Regions from separate parts of the Homo sapiens genome. Here all the other regions are linked to region 2. Evidence: fine-mapped expression QTL. A gene starts in region 2. Each other region holds a variant in brackets. All regions are shown on one strand. Distances are from middle to middle. Region 1 overlaps LY75-CD302 (LY75-CD302 readthrough). Region 2 holds the start of CD302 (CD302 molecule). Region 3 overlaps MARCHF7 (membrane associated ring-CH-type finger 7). Region 4 overlaps BAZ2B (bromodomain adjacent to zinc finger domain 2B). Region 5 overlaps MARCHF7 (membrane associated ring-CH-type finger 7).

Region 1 (5,135 bases), 74 kb before region 2:
GGTGGCTATGACAACAAACATTTAGCCTCACATTCTCACAGATCTTCAGGCCAGCTAGAGTTTGACTGATCTAGTTTGGGCTTGAATGGTGACCTCTGCTCCCAACTTCAGGTCAGCTGTGCTGGGCTCCAGCCCTTCCTTCTAGAGCTCAGGCTAAAAGGGCAACAGCTCACAGGGGTTTGTTGTTCTCATGGTATATCACTGGAGCCCAAGAAGGCAAGCCAACCATATAAGCACATTTCAGGCCTCTGCTCAGTTTACCTTCACTAATATCCCATCAACACAGTAAGTCATATGGCCAAGCCCCATGCCAAGGTACAAAGACGTATACTCCGCCCACCAGGGGGCTGTGGCAAGACCATCTAATTATATTACAAGGAACTGAAGAATTGGGACAAATATAATTCATCCTGTCATTGTGTCATCATCTCTTCTTCCTCCTCTGCCTCCTCCTCCTCCTCTTTTTCTTCTTTCTTCTTTCTTCTTTCTTCTTCTTTCTTTTTCTCCTTTCTTCTTCTTTTGAAACAGCCCAAGTTCCAGGTTTACTTTTGCCACTTTCTGTCAATATTCACACACCAGTGCAGACTGCTCTTTGGTTGTTCCTCGTCAGAAAATAGTGCTATTTTTGTGTGGGTCACTGTGTCTTATATTCGAAATTTCTATTGTTAGCACATTTCTTTGCCAAAGGCTACTCCCAAAGCATTTATATGTATCCTTTACAGCCTTGCCTCCTGGTTCATTTTATCTTTCAAGGTCCTAGGAATACAGGAGAACGTGGATCTTGTTGGAATAGTTCCCCAGCCTGGCTGAGGAAGGCCATCCATCTGACCACAAGGACTGGCATCTGTGCTGGCCTTTAGTTGAATTGACACTTTCAGCAGGACCTGTCTGTGTCTCAGTATATGTGCATTTACCTATGCCTTCACTACACCTTTAAGAATTCATTTCAGGGGCCCACACATGTGACAGTAATTGACTTTAGCACTATGAAATACTTTATGATAATACCATAAAACAAATTAATATTATATTTTGCTAAGGTATTCCATGCAGAAAGAATTGTAAGAAAGAGGAACTGGGAAGAAGCTGAACGATTCTGCCAAGCCCTTGGAGCACACCTTTCTAGCTTCAGCCATGTGGATGAAATAAAGGAATTTCTTCACTTTTTAACGGACCAGTTCAGGTAATACTTTAAGAATGAGAATTTCTATGCTGAATTTGATGTCCTCTAGATATTCAAAATTGACATGTTCTTACCCTCACTCTCTGTTGGAAAAAAAATGGACATGTTTTATTATCTAAAAGGTCATTTGGTGCTTAGCAGTCATGGAACATTAAGCACTCTTAATGTGCAGACACTATGAGGAATCTAAAAATGAATGAGATGTATTCCCTACCCTTTGTTTAATAAAGTCCAACAGCAATGTATGGCAGAAAATCTAGAATATAGGCAAGGAAGGGCCTTGGGAATTCAGAGGAGGGAGGGAGTGTTTCTGGGAGTATAATCAGGAAAAATGTCATAAAGAAGGCTGATTCTTGGAAGGTAGGTATTATTTCAAAAGGCAAGATAGGAGAAGGAGAAGGAGCCAGAAAAAAAACAGAACATAAGCAAAGGAACTAAGACCAGAATATACAGATATGGTCAAGGAGAAATGAGTCATACAAATTAGCTAGAAAATGGAATTTGGATATGAAATTGGAATGTCCTTGTTTGCAAGGGAAGGAGTTTGATCTTAAGTAATTAAACACAACCAAACAAAAAACAAAAACAAGGTGCGTGTGTGTGTATTTATATCTACACACACTCACATATACCTGCATATATACATATATACACAGAGAGGAAGGGGTTGGCCAGGCTGGTCTCGAACTTCTGACCTCAGGTGATCTGCCCACCTCAGCCTCCCAAAGTACTGGGATTACAGGCATTAGCCACCACACCCAGCCCATTATCAGTTTTGATTAAGTGTGAGTCTGCAAATTTGTTCAATAATAATAAAGTCCAATTCTGCACTTTTGAAAGAGACTTAAAACAAAGCTTGCCAATTAGTACTTATCCAGCTCTAAGACTATAATGTTCTTTTCCTGGGAGGAAGGGGCCACAAAATACTACAAAATTGTGAAATTCTAATAAAAATCCTTAAAAATTTAAAAATTTTTTAAATTTTTTAATTTTAAAAATTAAAGCAACTAGCAACATTTTCATTGTGCAACAGATAAAAGTTAGTGCTGAGTAGCTGGTGGCCTCCTGAAATGGGGCCTGACTCTCCAATTTGCCAGGTCTCTAATTTATTACTTCTTGACCCCACTTCACTTGCTTATGTTATGTGCTTGTCTTATATTTACTCAAATAGCAATTGAGTTAATAATCACAAGTCATGTGATCATCTTAATAGGTACTGAAAATGCATTGGGTAAAATCCACTATTCATTCCTGGTTTAATACATAAATATACACTTATATTTAGTAAATATAACTAATATGTAAATTCTTATTTGAATAGAAGAATAGCTCAAATTAATAGCCATATCACACTTAATGATGAAGCATTGTTAAGTGCATTTCCCTGAAAGTCAGAAAAAGGTAAGTATCCCTATATCATCACTATTGTTAATCTTGGTTTGAAATTCAACTCCTGCACATTAAGATAAAAACAATACTATAATGTGTAAATGTTTATATATATTAAGCAGAGGAAAAGACAGATTATCAAAGAGTAAAAAATATACTATTTACATTTAAAACTAGACTGCAAAAAGGGTAATGGCTATTATATCTCTAGGAAGTAAGATTTTGAGTGATTTTTAAAGTCTTTTCTATGGGCTGGGTGTGGTGGCTTATGCCTGTAATCCCAGCACTTTGGGGGCCTGAGGTGAGAGGATTGCTTGAAACCAGGAGTTCGAGACCAGCCTGGGTAGCATAGGGAGACCCTATCTCTATTTAAAAAAAAAAAAAAAA[G/AG]AATTAGCTGGGCATGGTGGCACACACCTGTAGTCCTGGTTACTCAGGAGGCTGAGTCAGGAGGATCACTTGAGCCCAGGAGTTCAAGGATACAGTGAGACAAGATAGTGCCACTGCACTCCAGCTTGGGCAACAGAGTGAGATGCTGTCTGTAAAAAATAAATGAATAGAATGTTTTCTTTGAAAATTTCTATATTTTCCAGATTTGCTTTTTGTTTTGTTTTTTGAGACAGTCTTGTTTTGTCACTCAGGCTGAGGTACAGTGGCATGATTACAGCTCACTGCAGCCTCAACCTCCCAGACTCAGGTAATCCCCCCACTTCAGCCTCCCAAGTAGCTGGGACTACAATCACATGCCACCACACCCAGCTAATGTTTGTATTTTTTTGTAGAAACGGGTTTTTCCATGTTGCCCAGGCTAATCTCAGATTCCTGGCTCAAGCGATTCACCTTCCTTGGCCTCCCAAGGTGCTGGGATCACAGATGTGAGCCACAGTGCCTGGCCCAGATTTGCTCTAATATAGCTTCTGCTGTGTTTTTCTCATTAGAGAATGTAGTTTCACTACAGTGTACTGGGAATCTAATGCAAAATATGATACCTGTGTTCCATAAATATTTATTTATTAAGCATCTATCGTAGAATCTCAGGTATTCTAGACATCATTGTCCAGTGTTAGAAATTAATATACAAAATTTCACTGCAGACTGACCCAAGGCAATTTGTATATACTAAATACTAACTCTTGGGTTCTTTGTGAGGTGAGTGTTAGCTATTCCCTCAACCTTGAGAATAGATTATAACAAATGCAAAATTCAGACCAAAATTTTCCACACATACAGACATTTGCTATGCAAACATTCATTGAAGCAGACACAAAACATTTTATACAACGTGTTTTGTAAGCTTGACAACATTCCAGCAATCTGTCCTTTTTGGTGTTTTAACTATCACCTTGCACAGATTTACTTGAAGCAGATGTGGCAGTGTTCTGTGGCAGCATTCTGTTCCCATTGTAGTGAGTATCAGGCCATCACAATCACCTGACCCAATGACTGGATGTGGGGTTGTTTCGAATCAAGCCCTACTAAGATACAGGCTGCGGCCTCGCAAGATTCTAATACACTCTTGAGAAGTGTGAGAGTTTCTCTAAATATTTTAGCTAATCCCTGCATCTCAAATAACTTATATTTCACCAGTGAGAGCCCAATCCTACCATCATGCTGATGAACAAGCTTCCGATTTCACTGACATTAACCCAGTTCTCACATTCATTCTGCTCATGACCAAAGCCTCCAGTGTGACTTTGGTGATCATGGAAGTCCTCATGGTGGCCACCTCTGGACCATGGCCTTTCTTTTTCTTTTTTTTTTTTATTATTATACTTTAAGTTCTAGGGTACATGTGCACAACATGCTGGTTTGTTACGTATGTATACATGTGCCATGTTGGTTTGCTGCACCCATTAGCTCGTCATTTACATTAGGTATTTCTCCTAATGCTATCCCTCCCCCATCACTCTGCCCCACAACAGGTCCCGGTGTGTGATGTTCCCCGCCCTGTGTCCAAGTGTTCTCATTGTTCAATTCCCACCTGTGAGTGAGAACATGCGGTGTTTGGTTTTCTGTCCTTGCGATAGTTTGCTCAGAATGATGGTTTCCAGCTTCATCCGTGTCCCTACAAAGGACATGAACTCATCCTTTTTTATGGCTGCATAGTATTCCATGGTGTATATGTGTGGGGCATGGCCTTTCAAATACACCACCAATACTTCCTGACATGTAAGTTTCAAGCAGGGCAACTTAATGGCCCTTAGATTTCAAGCTTGACACACACAATATCATATTATCCAGATAAAGTATTTTTAAGTAAAATGCTGACATAAGCTCTAGATTCCAAGCAAGAGGTTAGTAACTCTAACTGGAACGAGGAGCCATGGATAAGTACTAATGAATGAGGTTGTAGATATTTGTGAGAAACAATAAGTAGAAAACATTGGAATATCATATGTGATAGAAATGACCATTAAGAGCATCCATATACAGAACGAATTACACTAGGAAACAAAACATGAAAGGAAATTTTTATGATTTGTTTCTTTGTTTTGAATCACACTTGTTGAGCACTCCCTTCTTTAAAAAATTAATACAAGTTCATTATATAAAATTTGGAAAATAT
Region 2 (5,135 bases):
ATCTTGCATTAGCAGGTACATTTGTTACAGTGGATGAGCCAATATTGACACATTATTAACTAAAGTCCATTGTCCACACTAGGGTTCATCTTCGTTTTGTGCATTCTATGGGTTTTGACACATGTATAGTGATACACATCTACCATTACAGTATCCTACAGAATAATTTCATGGCTCTAAAAATCCTCTGTGTTCCATCTATTCATCCCCTCCTTCTTCCCACCCCAACCCCTGGCAACCATTTATCTTTTTACTGTCTCCATAGTTTTGCCTTGTCTAAAATGTCATATAGTTGGAATCATATAGTATGCAGTCTTTTCAGATTGGCTTCTTTCTCTTAGCAATACATATTTAAAGTTCTTCCATGTCTTTTTGTGGCTTGATAGCTCATTTAATTTTGGTACTGAGTAACATTTCATTGTTTGGATGTGCCATTGTTTATCCATTCACTTATTGAAGGACATCTTGTTTGCCTCTAGGTTCTGGCAATTATGAATAAAGCTGCTATCAACATTCATGTGCAGGTTTTTGTGTGTATGTAAGTTTTTAACTCATTTGGATAAATACCAAGGAGTTGTGATTGCTAGATGGTATGGTAAGAGTACGTTTAGTTTTGGAAGAAGCTTCCAAATTGTCTTCCAAAGTGGCTGTACCATTTTGCATTTGCACCAGCATTGAATGAGAGTTCTTTTTGCTCCACATCTTTGCCAGCATGTGGTCTTGTCAGTGTTTTTGGATTCTGGTATCTAATAGGTATGTAGTGGTATTTCATTTTTGTTTTCATATACAATTCAGCAATGACATATGATGTTGAGCATCTTTTCATCTATTTGCCATTATATAACTTCTTTGATGACGTGTGTATTCAGATCATCTGACCATTTTTTTTAACTGGGTCATTTGTTTTCACGTTGTTGAGTTTAGACTTGATTTTATAGAACTCTTTTGCCAATGACATGAGGCTTAAACAAGCACCCTTGCTTGACCCTGGCTAGTGTTGTCCAGAGGCCCTCATGGGTGAAGTATAATTGCACAGTTTATGCATACATTGTAGCAAACATAGCTTAAAGACTCTTCATCCAGGAGCTGGTAACAGAGAAAAGTTGTCTAAGAGACATAGTCCACTGAAAGGGGTCTTTGAAAAGGAGGATTCTGGCCAGTAGATCCAAAGAAGAAGGCTGGCAAACGCCACCTTAACCAACTGATCCAAGTTAACATCAGTGATGAGACATCGACATCTTGTCCTTCTCGAGCACGTACATCACTTCTGGGGAACTCTTTCCCAAAAAAGCGCAACCTGAATCCAATTAGAAGGAAATGTCAGACAAAATGAAACTGAGGGACATTCTACAAAACGACTGGCCAGTACTTTTTAAATGTGGTTTGATCGTGAAAGAAAAAGAATGACAGAGAACCGTCCTAGATTAAAGGGAGACTAAGGAGACACGACATGCAATGTATGATCCTGGATTGAATCTTGGAACAGAAAAGGACCCTTAGAGGGGCAATTAATGAAATGTGGTAAGTGCTGTAGATTAGCTAATCGCATTATCCCAGTGCGAGTGCCCTGTGTTTGATCACTGCACTGGCGTTATATACAATGTCAATATTTAGAGAAGCTGGCTGAAGGGTTACGGAAATCTCTTGTGCTGTTTTTGCAACATTTTCGAAAGTCCTAAATTATTTCAATTCAAATGAAAAGTTTAAAAAACAAAAATTAGAAGTTCCAGAAGGCCGCGCGCCAGCCGCTCCTGCGGGACGGGACACCCGGGTTCTCCTGGTGGGAGCCCCCAGTGCCGTTCACGTTCCGCCCGGGGGGGGGATTAAACTCGCACGCGAGAAGCACCGCCCCCGCTCCCGCCCCGCCCCGCTCCTCTCCGGCCGCGCAGCCGCTGCCGCCCACCCGCACCCGCCGTCATGCTCCGGGCCGCGCTGCCCGCGCTCCTGCTGCCGTTGCTGGGCCTCGCCGCTGCTGCCGTCGCGGGTAAGCCCTTACGTAGTCCCTCGCCGGGACCGTGCGCGACCGCCTTCGCCCCCTTCCCAACGCACGCTCTTCGTCCCCGCGCACCCGAGGGCGGCCCGCAGACGCAACACCCGGCCGGCCATCCCGCCCTTCCCTGCACGCCCGTCCCCCGTGGGTCCTGGCTCCGGGTCACCTCTCACCCGCCTGCCCTCGGGGAGGGGAGGTGGCCGAGAATAAGGGAGGGCTCTGTCTTCCTCGGAGTCCACATCCTCACCGCAGACCCCACTCCGCGGGGAGGGAACCCCCAAATTAGGCCAGTTGGCCGGAGAACTGAGGGACTTGGAGTCGCACGACGGGCGCCGTTTCAGGGCAATTTCGGGCTGAAATGAGAAGCGGGGACGTTGGTGGCGATTTCCCCTGCTGGTGCGCGGCCGGAGTGGGGTTGCTGGGATGGGGGTGGGGGCCGGAGGAAGTAGGCCCTCTTTTGCAAGCAGCGCTGTTTGTCTAGTTGGTTGGTGTTCAAGTTGTTTAAACAGGAAAACAGTTCAGCCAAATAACCCCTGGATGGAAGAGGAACGGGAATAGGCAAAGCTTGGATTTCACTGAAATCAAGGAGTTTTAAAGTTCTAGTCTGCTGTTGTGCAAGTGACATCTGAAAAATCACACACGTGATCATTCATTTACAAAACGACTCGTGAGGAAAATGCACAATTCTATTGACCGTGGTCTTTATTTTTAAAAAATTTCCATACAAGCATGTCAAAAATATGTGGATGGGGAGACTCTGGAGAACACAGACTTCCAAAAACACCACTGACTGAATAATTCCAGGAATTAAAGAGCAAAATAAACAAGAACTAAATGAGTACTTGTGTGGGCTTAAATAAAGTGCAAGAGATTTAAATAAAATGCAAGAGATTCCCCCCCCCCACCCCTTGCCCCAGATTTCACTGCGTTTTTATAATAACTGCCTGCTCGAAGTCTACTGACAGGAATATTTCAGTGGACCTCAGTGTTGGAGGCAGCAGCAGCTCAGAACTTGGATACAAACCCAAGGTTCCTTTCTTGAAAACTTCTGTGGACCTGCATTTATGACTGGTTGTGACATCTGCTGCCTATCAAAGGGGCAGAAACAAGATGTGCCCATGTTCACATTGTTCAGACTGGGAACATTAATTTTGTCTAAGACAAAGCTGGGCTGTCTCTGAACCCTCCTTCTGCACACCCTCATTTTGCGAGCCAGTAACATCTCAACTCTCATGTAAACCACCCTCTGCGAGGCTGTGCATTTGTACTTTAGGCTAGTCGAATTTTCTTGTCAGATTTTTCTTTCTTGTCAGACTTTTAAAGAAAATCAGTTTCTAGATTTTGGTATGTCTCTTCTTCAGTGAAGCTGTTTTGACCAGCAATAGAGGGCAAATTTCCCTTTGGAAATTTTTGTGCATTTCCTTTGATAAGTCCAGTGTGGATCAATAGGCTTTTCAAGAGCTTTAGAAAAGTGCATGATGAATAAATTAATGTTAATTAATCAGCTCCTCCCAGTCAGGAAGCTTTAAGGATTAATTTGGAAATGAGTGTGAGCTTTGACCTAGCTAGTTAACCAACTTATCTGCACTTCAGTAAAACAGAGATAATACTTACTCATGGGGCTATTGGGAGCATTAAGTGGGAACTCCACGTCTAGTCCCTATTACAGGCGTGGTTCATCTTGGTTTCCTTCCCTTTATTCTCTTCATACAAAATGAAGGGTAATTGTTGCAACCAGAAAACGTATGAATACCACCTTATGTATATTGGATGTTTATGGTTACTGAACACATTCATATGTATGCTAATGTTATAGGGCTGAAAAACTAAGTGTGTTTTTCATAATACTTTACAAATCTCCCATCCAAGCAAGATCAGGGGTCATATTTGGCTTAGAACTAAGTCAAGAAAGAGTTTGTTGCTGAATACCAAGATCTTAATAGAAAAGCTCTTATGATGTTGCATAATAAATATGGGTATTGCATATAAATGTGATGTTGAAACGGAAATCATTGTTATTGTCTGTCATTCTGGAGGTTATTAGTGAAGTGATCTTAACCTTGTTCTTAGCTATTATTTTGAAAATCACAGTGGACAAAACATTCTTTAAATTCCTGAGTGAAAATCCATGGCATCGCTTTAAAAAGTTTTTCCGTAAGGGTGCTTAAGCACATAATAGATGATCAGTATGTATTTATTTGGTCAGTGGTTTCCTATGCCTGGCATGAGCTGAGTGAACAAGCATGTTCCGAGTAAGTCCTCATTCTGTGATCATCATGTGGATCAGAATCTAGGGATTTTGAATTGCCATGTCCTACAAGCCTTAGATGAGGTGCCTCTGCCTTCTTCCCTGATGTCATCTCTTACCACCCTTCCTGCCATTCACTCTGTGTATCCACAGAGTAAACAGTATCTGGGTACTCCAACACCTCTGGTCCTTCTGTGCACACCACCTTCCCCCAGTCCTTGGCATGGCTGCCCCCACCTCCACCATTCAGATCTCTGTTCATATGTCACCTTCTCCGAAGCCTCCCTGAACACCCACATTCTCTGTCACATGTCCATGTTTTATCTTTTCCAAGCCTTTCTGAATGCATTGTGTTTATTCATCTGTCTTGCTTGTTGCTTCTCTTACCAGGGGAAAGAAGCTCCATAACAGAGATTTTACCATCTTGTGGATTTTTGTTTTGTTTTGATTTGTGTCTCTGCACTTTATTCTAAGTTATAATAAAAGGATGAAAAAATTTAGGTGAGTTATTTAAAAAGTAGGTAGGATAAGTGGATTGCAATTTTTTTCAAATTATATTACCTCTGCTATGCACTCATTTCATAATGAATTCAAAGCCTTAAATCATCTTAATCTATTGCTGCCACCTTTTCTTTCTTTCTTTTTTTTTTTTTCCGAGATGGAGTCTCACTCTGTCACCCAGGCTGGAGTGCGGTGGCGCAATCTCGGCTCACAGCAACCTCTACCTTCTGGGTTCAAGCAATTCTCCTGCCTCAGCCTCCCGAGTAGCTGGGATTACAGGCATGCGCCACCATGCCTGGCTAACTTTTGTATTTTTAGTAGAGATGGGGTTTCACCATGTTGGCCAGGCTGGTCTCAAACTCCTGGCCTCGTGATCTGCCCACCTCGGCCTCCCAA
Region 3 (5,135 bases), 27 kb after region 2:
AAAATCTGTCAAAATAATTCTGAAAAGTTTTCACATTCTTTAGAGTCGATTACTATACATAATACAAGTACCTGCCCAAAAGTATGTTTGTTCTCCTAAACCAGGTTATTTTCCTCAATTTATTAAACTGGATTCTTATAGAAAGATTACAAGGGTTTGAATAGGCAAGAACTGCAAAGTTGTGCATACTTACAGAAATTTAGGGAAACACACAAAGAATGAATGAATGCAAAGACACACAAAACCAGGTACTTTACTGCAGGTCTTGGTGTTTTTTTCAGTTAAACAAATCTTAAATCCCCAAAGCCAGGTGAACCATTAAACCTCAATAATGTAACACATTATCTAAATACTAGAATTCCTAAAGGGAACAGTAGGTCTGAATTTGTAGTCTTAGATCAGAAAGTAAAGCGAAGGAAGACAAACTGGAGCATGGTATATACTTGCGTGATTTCCACTATGGGGTCTTCAGTAGAGTGGAGAAGTGCACAACTTCCTAGAAAATTTGAGTACTATTCTTCAGGCTAAGAAATATAAATCTTGTTAGTAACAAATGCGAAATTTTTGGTTTTCTCATCAGTGTGGGAAATTCTCAACACAGAGAAATGTTTACACAAAACTACAGTTGTGCTCATCAAAATATACTTGCAACTTGTGTACCCTAATTTCCCAAATACTCTTTTGTCTTTTCCTTTTCAGATAACCACATTTTAATATCAGCATTGGTGATTGCTAGCACGGTAATTTTGACAGTTTTGGGAGCAATCATTTGGTTCCTGTACAAAAAACATTCTGATTCTCGTTTCACCACAGTTTTTTCAACCGCACCCCAATCACCTTATAATGAAGACTGTGTTTTGGTAGTTGGAGAAGAAAATGAATATCCTGTTCAATTTGACTAAGTTTTTGGTAATCTTGCACTAAGACATCAACAAAATGCCCTGGCAGAGATAACTTGGGAAAGATTTTAATATAAAACTTGACATTGGATATTAGAGCTTTAATGGTATTCCTTATTCCAGTAACATTTTTATGTACTCATCTGCTGTGAAAAGTCTTTAGGTTCATTAAAAAAACAGGTTTTAGAAATGATCTTAGATCTAATATAGTGATTTTAAGCATCCCGTCAAAGGCAGAATCTGTCACTTGAATGAAGGAAAGCTTAAAGCCCAAGCAGATAAAAATAAAAGCCCAGCCTATTTGTCTTGCCTGCTGTATCTTCCCTATTTAGTTGACCCACTTTAGTTTATATGTTTATTAGTAAACATGAAATGGGGAATAAGTGATTTTAAGTACATCCCATACATTTAAATATCTTTGATAATTGTTATTTTTTTGGCAGATAATTCCTCTAGAATGTGTATCTTTTTATGATTTAGATGAAGAAAATTTTACAACTTTTAACACCCCACACCAATTTTAGTTTCATTACTTTTACACACACCATTTTATCACAAATGACTCAAGTTTTAATGAATGTTTATAAATTATTTGAAACAAAATATGATCGCTGTGTCCAGGATGGCATAGAGAAAGCTGGCAATTAGGTTAACACTTACATATTATAGTGCCCCTTTAAGGATTTCTCTCTTGCCACCATACCTTTTGTACTTTCCCCTATACAAGATGTATCTCATTCTCCTCAAGCATTTATAAATTTTTCCTTCAATGACATGAAAACTGTGCAAGCAAAAACCGAAGAAAAACACTTAAGTACAACTGTAGTGACAGTGATCAAAGTTTTCAGTGCATTTATTGTACATTTTAAGAAAAAGGTGAAAATCATTTGGGGAGTAAAAAAATGAAAAAGCTGAAACGAGTAATTTTCCTCACCATCAATAAACCAAAAACAGGAAAGATAAAGAATGTATAAATTTCACGTAAATTAGTCACGTATCACTTATCAATGGGGATACGTTCTAAGAAATGCATAGTTAGGGAATCTTGTGTGAAAATCAGCTTGTATTTACACAAACCCAGATGGTAGAGCCTATTTTGTCCCAAACCTACACAGCATGTTACTGTGCTGAATACTGCAGACAATTGTAACACAATATTTGTGTATCTAAATATAGAAAAGGTACAGTAAAAATATGGTCTACTAAGGAAACACTGTTCTATATGTGGTCCATTACTGACTGAAGTATACTGTCTAGAAGTCTGAGGCTCAAAGAAAAGTAATCCCTCTTCTGAATCCACACCCCATCAATTATCTTACTTTCTTCTGGGGAGATAGATAGATATACTATCTCACTAGCTTGACTAATGGCAACAAAGTTCCAGCTTGTGTAGTCTCTTTTTATTGACCACATGAATCGAAAACACTCATCACAATTAATGGCACTATCATTAATGAGACATGAGTAACTAAAAAGTGATAGAAAACTATTAACAGTGCGGCTACATGGTACTGAAAATGCAGGCATTACACCAGCTGTTACACAAGCACAAGCATGCTCTGTAAGAGCTTTACATTTCTGAGATTTTGTATAGTGATTGAGATGTCTATTTTATTATTGATAGACTATTACTAATGTCAATATTGAACACTACCCTGGAATTCCTGCCTGGTTTTCCTACCCAAATTGTACCACTCCTTGAAGAACTACAGGCACAGTAAAAAAAATATGGCGTATTATGTGAACTAAAAGAGTTCTAAAGGAGTTCTTAAAGGAGTGGTAGAATTTGGGTAGGAAAGTGATTAAGTCCAACTTAAAACCAACAGTCTCAAACGTCTACAACTACAATGTCCAATGAGCCACTAGCCACATGAGGCTATTTAAGTAAATTTAGTTTAAAATCCAGTTTTCGAATTACATTAGCCACATTGTCAAGTGTTCAAATCACAGGTGGTTAGTGGCTACTGTACTGGGCAACATACATTATAGAACATTTTCATTATAGGAAGTTTTATTGGGCAGTGCTGCTCTTAAATCCTACCTTCCACTCAACTCCCATACAACTTTCTTTTGTACATTTTGATACTTTCTACCTAATGGCAGCTCTTCCAAAATAGCTGCTTTAAACTCTGATTTAATTTTCAATATTTGGTTTCATTTTTCAACAGGCCAAGAGGCCTCTGGTAATGAAGTGCTATATATATATATAT[G/ATG]ATGGAGTCTCACTGTGCTGCCCAGGCTACAGTGCAGTGGCTCGATCTTGGCTCTCTCCAATCTCCGCCTTGCAGGTTTTCAAGCAATTCTCCTGCCTCAGCCTCCTTAGTAGCTGGGACCACAGACATCTGTCACCACACCCAGCTAACTTTTTGTATTTTTGGTAGAGACGGGGTTTCGCCATATTGACTGGGCTGGTCTCAAACTCCTGACCTCAAGTGATCCACCCACCTTGGTCTCCCAAAGTGCTGGGATTACATGCGTGAGCCACCACACTTGGCCTACATTTTTTCTTTATATACCAGAACATCTATAACAGGCACCTTATCTACTCATTAGTGAAGAGATAATTGGATTACACAGGCAGGCTTGTTTACTACATCCAGAATGTAGAAACTGCTTTCTTCAACATCTTGGTTCTAGCTAGTAATAACAATATAATTCTTTGGCAGATATTCAGAATAACATTTTAAACTACATTTTCTTAGAAAATTGCATTCTTGTAGTGAGCAGTGTATGGTCTCTTTTGTTCAGAATTTAAAACTGATAACCAATGAAAGCCTTTTCTCTTATTCCTCTACCGTCATTTACATGATAATCTGAAGCTAATATGACAATATTTAAATACTAAGTGGTACTAGGGAACTACAAGAATACTGTAAAGCTTAAGCCATTGTTATCACTGTCATTTAGCATTTAATAACAAAACTATACAGAATTATGTGCATACCAATGAATGTTTTGTACCATCTAGTTAAATTTTTTAAATAAAGTTTTATGGGTTAAGCAGAAGACAACTGTCATACTGAATTTTATTAAAAGTATATATACTTCAAATTCAAAGCATCCCTTAGGACCCACAGAATATATTAAAACTACCACCCTTAAATTTTATATTTTTGCTTTAAGACAGACAATGCAAAGGTAACTGGCAAGAGGTGAGCAAATGTTTTAGAACATTTATATTATTGCTTAAAATGAGATTTGAAATTGTAATAAAATTCTTGGTTATGAAGTCTGATGTCTTCTTTGAGCACCAGTTTAAAAGGAAACATTTCAAACAGTAAAATAAATCAGTGTGTACTTTATTTTGAGCCAATGTTTTACATAAGACCAACAAACTAAGTGTGGGCAAACTGTTCAATCACTTTTGAGAAATTACATGGTTCCTATTTAGGTTTGAAAAAGTAGTTTGTTGCCATAACATCAGACCTTAAGGTGTTTTAAAGTGTATCCTAAGGGTACTGACAGAAGAAAAATACAGTGTTATGGAAGTATACACAACTCATGACCACACAGTATAGATCCATTCATGGTGAATAATGTTCATCTGTTCTCCAAAGGTAGTGAAAAATATTAAGTCATCAAATAAATGCTCAGAATTACCAAGGAACAGTTAAAAAGGACCAGGATCCAAACAGGTTATTTATATATTTATCTATAAACAAGTGACAACACTAAAAAACACATTGAAAACCAGTGTTTTAAACTCTGAATGTGGGATTTAAAAATATTCCATTAACTTGAGATTGCAATAATTTTTTTAAACCAAATAGCATTTGACTGGCAAGTCTCATATAATTTACAGCTGTAATATTCCTAAAAGGAATATCTACATACTATAGCCTATCAAATATAATCTGCATTTTGCAAATCAATACAAAAATCTATCCATCATTTATACATTTTATATTTATATACTTTTTAAAAATTAGATTTTATTGCTAGGTGAATTTGGAATTCAAATTAAATTTGGAAACTTAATAATGCTCTTCTCATAACCTTCTCCCCATTCTTTTTTTAATTTTTAAACACTGGAAGCAAATGATTATCAAAATGAGACTGCAACTTAAGGCATTTTAAAAGAAAAAATAATTAGGTGCCATATAGCATTTTATTTCAAAAGTATATTTTGTCCCACTTTTCTCACTAGCAAGAGTAAAACACAAACCTTTTTTCATAAATATGACTACAGTAATCATAACACAAAAAAGGGTTGATAGGCATTGCTTAGATATTTAAAAC
Region 4 (5,135 bases), 190 kb after region 2:
AGCATTGAACTAGATCAAGAACAATTAAATTTTGAATATTCACAGATCAGGAAGAAAAGATCCAAGAAAAGAAGGACTGCATAAGCCTATTATAGAACAAATATAGAGCTAGAGCTCTATATTAGAGCCAATCCATTTGACATCTGGGATGGTTCTGCCTTTTCAAGGTCACCCCAACCCATACCTCTTCCACTAGAAGGAAAAGAAAATGTCATGGGATCCTTCCTTTCAAAATTGACTGCTTGGCTTTTTCTGGAGAAGATGGGTTAATCAGTTTCAATCCTCCATTTCAGTGATAGGCTTATTTGTGAAGGCCGGGTTAAAACTGACAAAACTACCCTTTCTGGTTAGAGGTATTCAAATCTTCTGTTTTGAGATTAACCAGAACCCCTCCCTTTTCCTTGGTTCTTTTCCTATGCTTTTGTGAACAGTTTTTCTGGAAATCTAATGCATGATCCCCCCTGCTAAGAACATTGAGTAGAGAGCAGAGGGTGATATATGTGTATCCCTTTTCTCCATGATGATGGCTCTGGCTCAAAAAACACTTTTACTTCTTTTAGTTCCTTCGGATGAATGCAGAAGACAAGCAGACTGCTGGACTGCCAGTAACGGGCATATCCATAAGGACAAAAAGGAGGGCCAGGCGTGGTGGCTCATGCCTGTAATCCCAGCACTTTGGGAGGCCGAGACAGGCAGATCACTTGAGGCCAGGAGTTTGAGACCAGCCTGGTCAACATGGTGAAACCCTGTCTCTACTAAAAATATAAAAATTATTTTTTTTGAGGCGGAGGTTGCAGTGAGCTGAGATAGTACCACTGCACTCCAGCTTGGGTGACAGAGTGAGACTCCGTCTCAAAAAAAAAAAAAAATAGAAATCCCACTAAAAAAGAGTATGAAAAAGGAAAGATTTAAAAAATTTTCAAAACACAAATGTATGAAAGATCTTTTACATAATGTCTTGGCCAAGGACAATAAATTTTAGTAGTTAGTCTTTTCCTAACTTCATTATTACTACATCATAATAATAATGAAATTTATTATTATTGCATATTAAATGTTTTATTTGCAGTATTGTGATGAACATTTACTTGCAAGAGATTTGTCATAAGAAAACCTTAAAACTTTTATGTAACCATTTTTTATCTTGTACAAGGATAAGTTTTGAGGTAAATTAAAGATGGAAAACAGTGGAAATAAAAAGTTATCTAGTGTCTAAGTTTAGTTCAAAGCCATGCTTACTATCTTTTCTGGTTTCTATGATGACATGGTTGTTGAAACATGCTTCTGATCTTTGGGTAATGTATTACTGTTAACATAAACCATTGTGATGACATAGGAAGCACCAAAACCTATCTTCAACATTTGAAAAAATCAGGAGCCGTGTATAAGTCACAAAATGACCTTTTCTTCGTTTCTGGGTTGTTAGTGCAGCATGCTGAGAAAAACAGGCTCTGCAAGGCAACATTAACTGACAGAGTTGTGGGTCAAATCTCTTTATTTTAAAAGAGGGGTTACTTTGGAGCCAAAGTTAAGTGTTCTTAGGGTTTGGGCAGAAACAACAAAAAAGGAGACAATTTTAAATAAGGTTTCTAAATGCAGTCAGAGTGGAGCATTGTTATGTAATCAAGTCCTTTTGGAACATATCAAGATTTTGTCCATAGTAGTGTAAGTATTTTAGCATTAAATTTCTGTGCCTTGTCATTAATATTTTCTGCAGCTTGTTGGGTAAATAACTCTTATCTGTAATCATGCCTTGGGGATTTGAAGTAAAAGTTGAAGGGTTAGGGAAGGGCAGTGTGAATAGTAAACACTTGGTCCAGGAAGAGAACATGTAATAACTTTAGACAGTTAGATAAAAGCTCTCTTTGCCCTTCCCGCTGCAGGAAGCCTGTTTGTAGGTACACTTGCCAAAACTCACAAAAGAGAAGAATTGTTTTAAAGAACGTGAAAATGTTTTTGTACTGTGTGTGAAATGGGAAGGTAGGAATAAGGCATGCCTGGGAAGAAAAGCTAAATTGAATGTGACCAGAAGTTTACTGTTTTTAAATTTTTATTATTATTAATTTTTTAGAGACAGGGTCTTGCTCTGTTGCCCAGACTGGACTGAACTGGGCACAAGAGATCCTCCCATCTTAGCCTCCTGAGTAGCTGGGACTACAGGCATGCACCACTGGGCCCAGCTGTTTTTTTTTTATAATGAAGTGTTCTGTGACGTAGTACCTTGAATTTGACCTTTTGCATTTTAATATGAGCCACCTTTTGTGAAATAGATTATTTTTGCAAATATTTTATTTGTTCCAAGTAGCATTTAATATACTGCAGGTACCAACTAAATTAATTACATGTACATGGGTAAAAATACATGTTTATTTCTATATTTATAATCTCAGCACTTTAAAAGTGAGCTAAAAATAATCCTACAGCTACCCATGGAAATAAATAAAAATCACTTATCAAGCCAGGTGCAGTGCCTCACACCTGTAATCCCAGCACTTTGGGAGGCCCAAAATGGGAGGATCACTTGAGGCTAGGAGTTCAAGATCAGCCTGGTCAACATAGCAAGATCTTGGTCTCTACACAAAATTTAAAAAAAAAAATCAGCTGGGTGTGGTGGCATGCACCCGTAGGCCTGGCTACTTGGGAGGCTGAAGTGGAAGGATTGCTCGAACCCAGGAGCTCAAGGCTGCAATGAGCTATTATTGCACTCCAGCCTGTGTAACAGAGTGAGATCCTGTCTCTGTCTCTCTCTCTTTCTCTCTCCTGTGCATGCACACACTCCAGCCTGGGTAACAGAGTGTGATCCTGGCTCTCTCTCTCTCCTAGCGCGCGCACACACGCGCACACACACACACACACACA[A/CACACAA]AATATATTAACTTTTCAGTTCTTTAGATTTAACAATAATTTTCCTACTTTTAAGCTGAAAAATGCCCTCCTCACCAAACTTTTTATAGTTATTTCTCATATTTTTAATTTTTTGACATTTAATGATTCTGCATTCCTTTCTGCTAGTAAAACTGTCCTTTTATGCCTATGTTAAGGCCCAACTTCCCATCAACATTTATCTATACCATATTTTCATGTGATATTGTATTCTCTAAAATTTCTATTATAAGGAATGTTGAGCTAGATAACTAAAGGTCAATTTTTTAAAGCATTGTCATGTTTTGGTTGTAATTTTGTTTCAACCTCTTGTGACAGGAATCTTTTGAAAAAATACTAATTTTATTAAATATATTGAGAGTATTCAAACTATGCTTCTTTGATAAGGCAGGCTTATCATACTGGTAAGTAATTCTATTACATTTTAGATGCCTAAATTAAAACTATTTGAGTATCAAAATATTGTACTCTACAAATATGTACAATTATTATGTGTCAATTAAAAATAGCTGGGCATGATGATTCACACCTGTAATCCCAGCTACTCGAGAGGCTGAGGTGGGAACATCGCTGGAGGCCAGGAGTGTGAGACCAGCCAGAGCAACATAGTAAGACTCCTACCTCTAAAAATAAAATAAAATATAAAATACATGTATAAGAAAGGGAAAAAAACTATTTGAGAATATAACTTGGAATTAAAAAAAATAAATTCCCATATCATATTTGTGTCATTTGCCTGTTTATGTTAAAAGGGTATATGCAGCTGTACAACTTGCCAGTTACTTATTCCTTCTTACAGTTAATCATATTCATTGTCCTTTGACTTTTCTTTAAAATTAAAAATGTATTTCTTCACTATAAAATATTAATAAAAGTTTTTAAAAATACAGAAAAGCATTGATAAAAATTTCAAATGTTCAAAATTCTATTATTCACAGGCTACTATATGCATTATTAGTTTGTTTTATGTTGAAATGAAATATTTACTGAAATGAAGGTGTTCATTAATGAAACAGCAGGTTAGTGTCATGAACCTATTCCTGCAAAAGATGAAAATGACAGGAGTGGCCATAGAGTGAAATGTGTCTGTGGTATTACCTAAGAAAGAACTAAAATAATCCACTGGATTAAGTGACAAGGACATTAGTGACCTTGGCATTAATAGTTTCAGTGGAGTGGTTTGGATTAAAGCTATAGAAATGGAAACATGTTTAAATAGTTTTGGGGTTTTGTTTTTTTTTTTGTAAGGAGGAGGAAAAGAAATTTGGTAGTTTCTGGGAAGGAAATATAGGAAGATGATTTTTTTTTAACAGGGTGAATGAAGATACAGGGGCAGAGGATATAATTCAGAGATTCTGTAAGAAATGGGAAGAAATGGGTTCCAGATCCATGTTAGACTGATAATCACGAACTAGAACGAGGGATACTCTTTCATTGTAACTAGAGGGAAAGAAAAAATGTGGGAATGCATAGTGGTGAAATTGGAGCTTGAGGAAAGAAATTTCAGAGAGTCCTAGTTCCAAATATTAGCATTTCTTCTAACAGAAATGCCTCCTTACGGCATTTTAAATAAAACAAGTTTTAATTTCCATTTTTAAAATGTATGTATTTTTACGAAGTAGCTGTTATGTAGTTTTTGCATTCTCCGTTGTTTATTAGCTCTTAATTATTTGGATTATATCATGAGCATTTTCTCTTGTCATTAAGTATTTTAAAAGACTGCATAATTTATCCAATCTTAGGGCATTTAAGTTTTTTGTTTTTGTTTTTGTTTTTTTGAGACGGAGTCTCGCTCTGTTGCCTAGGCTGGAGTGCAGTGGTGCGATCTCGGCTCATTGCAACCTCCGCCTGCTGGTTTCGAGCAATTCCCCTGCCTCAGCCTCCCAAGTAGCTGGGACTAGTGGCACATGCCACCATGCCCGGCTAATTTTTGTATTTTTATTAGACATTGGGTTTCACTATATTGACCTGGCTGGTCTTGAACTCCCGGCCTGAAGCAGTCCACCCTCCTCAGCCTTCCAAAGTGTTGGGATTATAGGTGTGAGCCACAATGCCTAGCCTCACTTTATGTTATTATATGATGGGATGAAATATCATCAAACATCCCTCAGCTTTTTTTATTCTAAGTTATTTCTGTAGGATTCATTTTTAGAGCTTGAATTGCTGGGTCAAAGAATATGAATATTTTATGGTATTCTGGAAAATATTAACTGGTTTGTATATGTGGCAAAGAGAGCCTTGATTTGTAGTGTCTTTTG
Region 5 (5,000 bases), 59 kb after region 2:
AATTCCTGGGCTCAAACAATCCTCTGCCTTAGCATCTCAAAGTGCTAGGATTACAGGTGTGAGCCACCACATCTGGCCTGGCTTTCTTCTAAGACATTACTATTTATACTTTATTTTCTATTATACTTCAATTATTAATTTTTAAATTTATTTTTTATAGAGATGGGGTCCCACTATGTTGCCCAAGCTTGTTTTGAACTCCTGGGTTCAAGTGATCCTCCTGCCTCAGCCTCCCAAACAGCTGGGATTACAGGCATGAGGCACTGCACCCAGCCAATATGGTTCAATTATGAGAAACATATTGCCTGCATTCAGGGGATGTATTAGTTCATGGTAACACTGGAAAAGAAACTTTGAAAATAAAGTAGAAGGTGTGAGGCTGAAAAGGTAGGAATGGGCTACATCAGGAATTCGCCCATCCTTTGCCTAGAGAATATTTTGTAAATTGATAATGGCATTTTTCAGCTTAGCACAAACTTAGTCTCACAAGCCTTCTGTACCTAATATTACAGACACCCAATCAATGAACTGGAGCTAGCACAAGAAATGAAATTAATTTGATATTTTAGAATCAAACCATTTCATATGCCATCATCATCAAGGTATCAGGGACCTTATCCTGCAGGCCAGTGGTTCTAAAACCTCTGGATTTCAGAGACCAAAATAAAAAAATGTTTTAATTTAAAATTGAGAAAGAACTGTCACTTTTGACCAGTAGGACATCTAAAATAGCAACTAATACCTAATCCTGTCCCCAATTTTTAAAAAAGGAATAAAGGATATAATTCAGAATGAGCACTTTAAATTGAATACATTTGTACAAACTCCATAACTTGTCATTATTTTTCTCATTTTGCACAGACTGCATAAACTTACTGAACAGCACTTCTGCAAACATGATTTTGGGAACTAATGAAGGGGGGGATAAATCAGATCTACTACTATATAGAAAGACTTTTAGAGGCATGTGGAAGACGAAATAGATGAACAGAAAGAAAACCAATTAGGAAGCCATTAGAATATCAAGAAATAAGTCCCTATGAAGTAATGGGAATAGAGGGCAATTATAAAAGATAAAAATTCATCAGATTTAGGGACAATGTGAGAAATAGAGAAAAAAGTTTTTTGGTACTGTCTACTGGTGAAATAAATGACTATGCCATTCATTAAAAATACTGATTATAGGGGAGCAGATTTAGATAATGAATTTCATTTGATTCTTGAATGCTGAAGTGTCCAAAGACTTAAAGTGACACTCACTGTTCATTAAACAATTTTCATGACTCACGACACAACATGTAGATTATATGGCTATATCCAAGACAAAAAATGTTTGTTAATATCAGCATATAGATATACATATCAGTATACATAATGTCAGTATATAGAAGGAATGTTTTGGTTAGTTTTGCTATTGGCTTGAGTTCAAAATCAAACCTTTTCCTGGTTCCTACAATCCAATTTTGTCCATATTTGTTCAAATATCCTCAGTCTGAAGCAATTGTTTTTTTCCCTCGGAATTCTTTGAACAATTAAATAAAGTGTCAGATTCATTTAACAATGTATTATCTCTTCTGCTGTCCAGAACTATAGGCCAAATGAAATCAGGGAATAAGTCTGTCTTCAAAGTATACCACATTGGGCATGACGAATCCTTAAACAAGTAGTTTTGGGGTTGTTTTCACTTATAAACAATGCCGTTATGAACAACTGTAAATTTTTGTATGGATGTATGTTTTCAATACTCTTGGGTGTAACTGATAGATCATGTAGTAACTTGATGTTTGATATTTGGGGGAATTACTATTTTTCCAACTATAGGTTGATGCTAACAGCTGTGATGGCAGCAGCAGTTCATCTGGAGCGGCTGCCACAAAGACGCCGGCTGCAGCAGGGGAGGCGTGGCAGGGTCTGTGCGCTCCACAGAGTCAGCAACAGGTGGGAGCCCTGACCACTTCCAAGTTGGTGGGGTGGGAGCCCTGTGCTCCCTGACCCAGCTGTGGCTGTAGACTTGGGTATCCCTGTGCTCTCAGGGGCCTGAGAAGCCTCCCTTCCCGCCCCCGCCTCCTGCTCCGATTTTGGAGCAAAGTTTTGGCCAAGCTTGGGCACTGTCACGATCCAGGTGTGTATGCGCATGCTTGGGGCAGTGCCGACACACCAGCCCACTGCTACCTTGGCCCCCGTCTGGACTTTGGGCACCAACAAGCACAAAGGGAAGCCAAGGGGGAACTGAGGGTGGCTTGGCATGGGTCTGCAGGCATCCCTTGGCACAAACAGCCTGGGTGCCATGAACAGTAGCAGGAGGCAGACATGCTCCTGGGTGAAAAGGGGCAGGTCCCTAGTGAAACCCTACCTTTAAGCCTGGGATGGCCTGAAGCCTGGAGGCTGGGCTGCCAGTTCCACGGACCGGAGTGAGAACTTATGGTGCTTATCCCAGGCCCACCCATTGCCTCCCATGGACCAATCAGCATGCACTTCCTCTTCTCTGAAGCCCATGAAAATCTGACTCAGCCAGATGTCAGGCTGACTTCCCTATGGACAGGAGCTACCCACT[C/T]CTGTCTGGTCTCCTCTCCACTGAAAGCTACACACTCGTTGGGATGACCTGCCTGTGGAAAGGAGCCACCCACTTTGGGTCTCCTGAGAGCTGTGCTACTGCTCAATAAAGCCCCTCTTCGCCTTGCTAACCCTCCAACTGTCTGTGTACCTCATTCTCTCTGGACGTGGGACAAGAACTCGGGACCCGCCAAATGGTGGGACTCGAAGAGCTGTAACACAAACAGTGCTGAAACATCCCTTCCTACCCCCCACTCACCATGCTGCCGGCGACAAGGACGGAAGAGCTCTGACCCTTTGGGGAGTCCAGACCTAGGAGCTCCCTGAACCAGGGCTGTGACAACCTCTTTGGGGCTCTGTAGTTCCTTGTGTCTCCAAGCTTTTGGGTGCCACTGCGTTCCTCAGTGCCCACAGAAGCTGCTGCCTGTGGTACACCTGATCCATCCACAGCCTCATAGGGCACCAGTGCCTAGAGCTGCCTGCCCCACTGCACCCAGTGTGCCTGGCTGTAAACGGTGGCCGGACCCTGCGCTCACTTGCCCATGCACCCCCTGCCGATCCATGTCTGGCTCACCCTTGGCAGGCGTGGGATCCGAGCTGATAGCACGAGTCGAACAAAGCCTGCCAGTCCGAGTAGGCAGAACACACCCAGCAGGCCCGAGCAAAACCTGGGCAAAGGCACCACCAGCCACAGAGGCTTCTAGCTGGAAAAGCAACACTCCAAGTGCTGACAGCTGTACCATTTTACAGTCCCATCAACTATGTATGAAGGTTCCAATTTCTCCACCACTTACCAACACTGTGATTGTCCATCTTTTTTTTTAATTTTGAGACAGGGTCTCAGCTCTGTTGCCCAGGCTAGAATGCAGTGATGCAATCACAGGTGACTGTGGCCTTGACTTCCTGGGCCCAAGCAATCCTTCCACCTCAGCCTCCAGAGTAGCTGAGACTACAGGCATGCGACACCATGCACAGCTAATTTTTAAATTATTTCTTGGTAGAGACTGGGTCTCACTATGTTGCACAGGTCTCAAATTCCTGGGTTCAAGCAATCCTCCCAGATTTGGCCTCCCAACTCAGGCCTGGGATTACAGGCATGAGTCACTGTGCCCAGCCTATCCATCTTTTTTATTTTGGCTATGCTAGTGGGTGTTAAGTATCTCACTGTAGTTCTGACTTGCATTTCCCTAATGACTAATATTTTTTCATGTGCTTATCAGCCATTAATATATCTTTGGAAAAATGTTTATTAAAGTCCTTTGCCCATTTGAAATTGGGTTATATTTTTATTGTTGAGAGGTAAGAGTTCTTCATATATTCTGGATACAAGTCTCAGTATCCAGTAAGATATATACTTTGCAAATATTTTCTCTCATTCTGTGGATTGTCTTTTCACTCTCTTGGTATCGATGCACACAAATTTTAATTTTTATGAAAACTAATCAATCTTTTTTTGCATTTCCTGCCTCCCGACTATGAGCACTCGTATGAAACTAGATGGAAGCAACTAAATTTACACTGGAGTTTAAAGAGGTTTCTTTCTTTTTCATTAACTTTCCAGTCTCTACCCAGACAGGTAACAGATTTGGCTCCCAGAGTAAATAGTTTTCATCAGTTATTTCCAATTCAAAAGGCTATCTGTGATATGGTGAATTGTATGGTATATGAATTATAACTCAATAAAATGAGGGAAGAGGTGGAGGGCTATCTAGCCCAACCAAAGTAGCTGAAATACTATATAGTGTATCTGAGAAATCATCAATAAGACAGCTTGGAGACTTAATAGCTATAGATACTCTATGCACAATGAATAGAAAATAACTTTCCAAGACTTTATATAACTAGCAGGCATCCAATTTTCATTTTATTTCTTTTTACCTTCATAATAGTTATTCATACCACCTTTCCAACAAGAGGTTTACTGGAAGTATAGTCAATGAAATCATTTACTATTACTATTGTATAAGTCAATATTTGCTTTCAGAAAATTATTTCTAAGGTTTTAAAATATTTTCCCAACACAAATGCCCTTAAAACAATGCAATTAAAAAAATAAAAAAACTTAAGGAGAAAATATTTGCAAATCATGTATCCAATAAGGAGCTTGTATCTAGAATATATAAAGAACACTTACAACTGAGTAACAAGACAAGTGTACTTTAAAATGAGCAAAGGAACTATTATAAATAGGCATTTCTGAAAAATGTACAGTAAACGGCCAATTAGCACATGAAAAGATGTATAACATCATTAGTCATCAAGGAAATCCAAATCAAAACCACAATGAGATACATACCACTTCATACCCATTGGGATGGCTAGAATCAGAAAGTAAGATAAGTGCTGATGAGAATGTGGAGAGACTGGAATCTTCATACACACAAAAGGGAATGTAAAATGATCTAGCCAGTTTGAAAACAGTATGGCAGTTCCCCAAACGATTGAAC

What was found. PIP is the estimated chance that this variant, and not a neighbour inherited with it, causes the effect.
Region 1: its variant is fine-mapped to the expression of CD302 in whole blood (INTERVAL, PIP above 0.99).
Region 3: its variant is fine-mapped to the expression of CD302 in whole blood (INTERVAL, PIP above 0.99).
Region 4: its variant is fine-mapped to the expression of CD302 in whole blood (INTERVAL, PIP above 0.99).
Region 5: its variant is fine-mapped to the expression of CD302 in whole blood (INTERVAL, PIP above 0.99).

What each region holds. Positions count from the first base shown.
Region 1 is chr2:159,868,499-159,873,633 of GRCh38, reverse strand. It overlaps LY75-CD302 (LY75-CD302 readthrough), which reads left to right. Exons shown (of 38, transcript NM_001198760.1): 13 at 1,041-1,183. It overlaps LY75 (lymphocyte antigen 75), which reads left to right. Exons shown (of 35, transcript NM_002349.4): 13 at 1,041-1,183. Among named protein-coding and RNA genes, the nearest start is that of LY75, 34 kb to the left of the region's middle. The variant G/AG (reference allele first, on the strand shown) is at 2,960.
Region 2 is chr2:159,794,981-159,800,115 of GRCh38, reverse strand. CD302 (CD302 molecule) reads left to right here and starts at 1,908. Exons shown (of 6, transcript NM_014880.5): 1 at 1,908-1,984. The coding sequence starts at 1,918. The region is part of intron 33 of LY75-CD302 (LY75-CD302 readthrough); the gene reads left to right. LOC124906083 (a long non-coding RNA gene) reads right to left here and starts at 4,926. Exons shown (of 2, transcript XR_007087273.1): 1 at 2,164-4,926; 2 at 1-1,297.
Region 3 is chr2:159,767,618-159,772,752 of GRCh38, reverse strand. It overlaps MARCHF7 (membrane associated ring-CH-type finger 7), which reads right to left. Exons shown (of 12, transcript NM_001282805.2): 12 at 1,726-5,135. It overlaps LY75-CD302 (LY75-CD302 readthrough), which reads left to right. Exons shown (of 38, transcript NM_001198760.1): 38 at 700-4,125. The coding sequence ends at 902. CD302 (CD302 molecule) reads left to right here. Exons shown (of 6, transcript NM_014880.5): 6 at 700-4,125. The coding sequence ends at 902. Among named protein-coding and RNA genes, the nearest start is that of CD302, 28 kb to the left of the region's middle. The variant G/ATG (reference allele first, on the strand shown) is at 3,110.
Region 4 is chr2:159,602,657-159,607,791 of GRCh38, reverse strand. All of the region lies in intron 1 of BAZ2B (bromodomain adjacent to zinc finger domain 2B), which reads left to right. Among named protein-coding and RNA genes, the nearest start is that of BAZ2B-AS1, 10 kb to the left of the region's middle. The variant A/CACACAA (reference allele first, on the strand shown) is at 2,860.
Region 5 is chr2:159,736,171-159,741,170 of GRCh38, reverse strand. The region is part of intron 4 of MARCHF7 (membrane associated ring-CH-type finger 7); the gene reads right to left. Among named protein-coding and RNA genes, the nearest start is that of MARCHF7, 26 kb to the right of the region's middle. RefSeq lists an enhancer at 2,590-3,582. The variant C/T (reference allele first, on the strand shown) is at 2,555.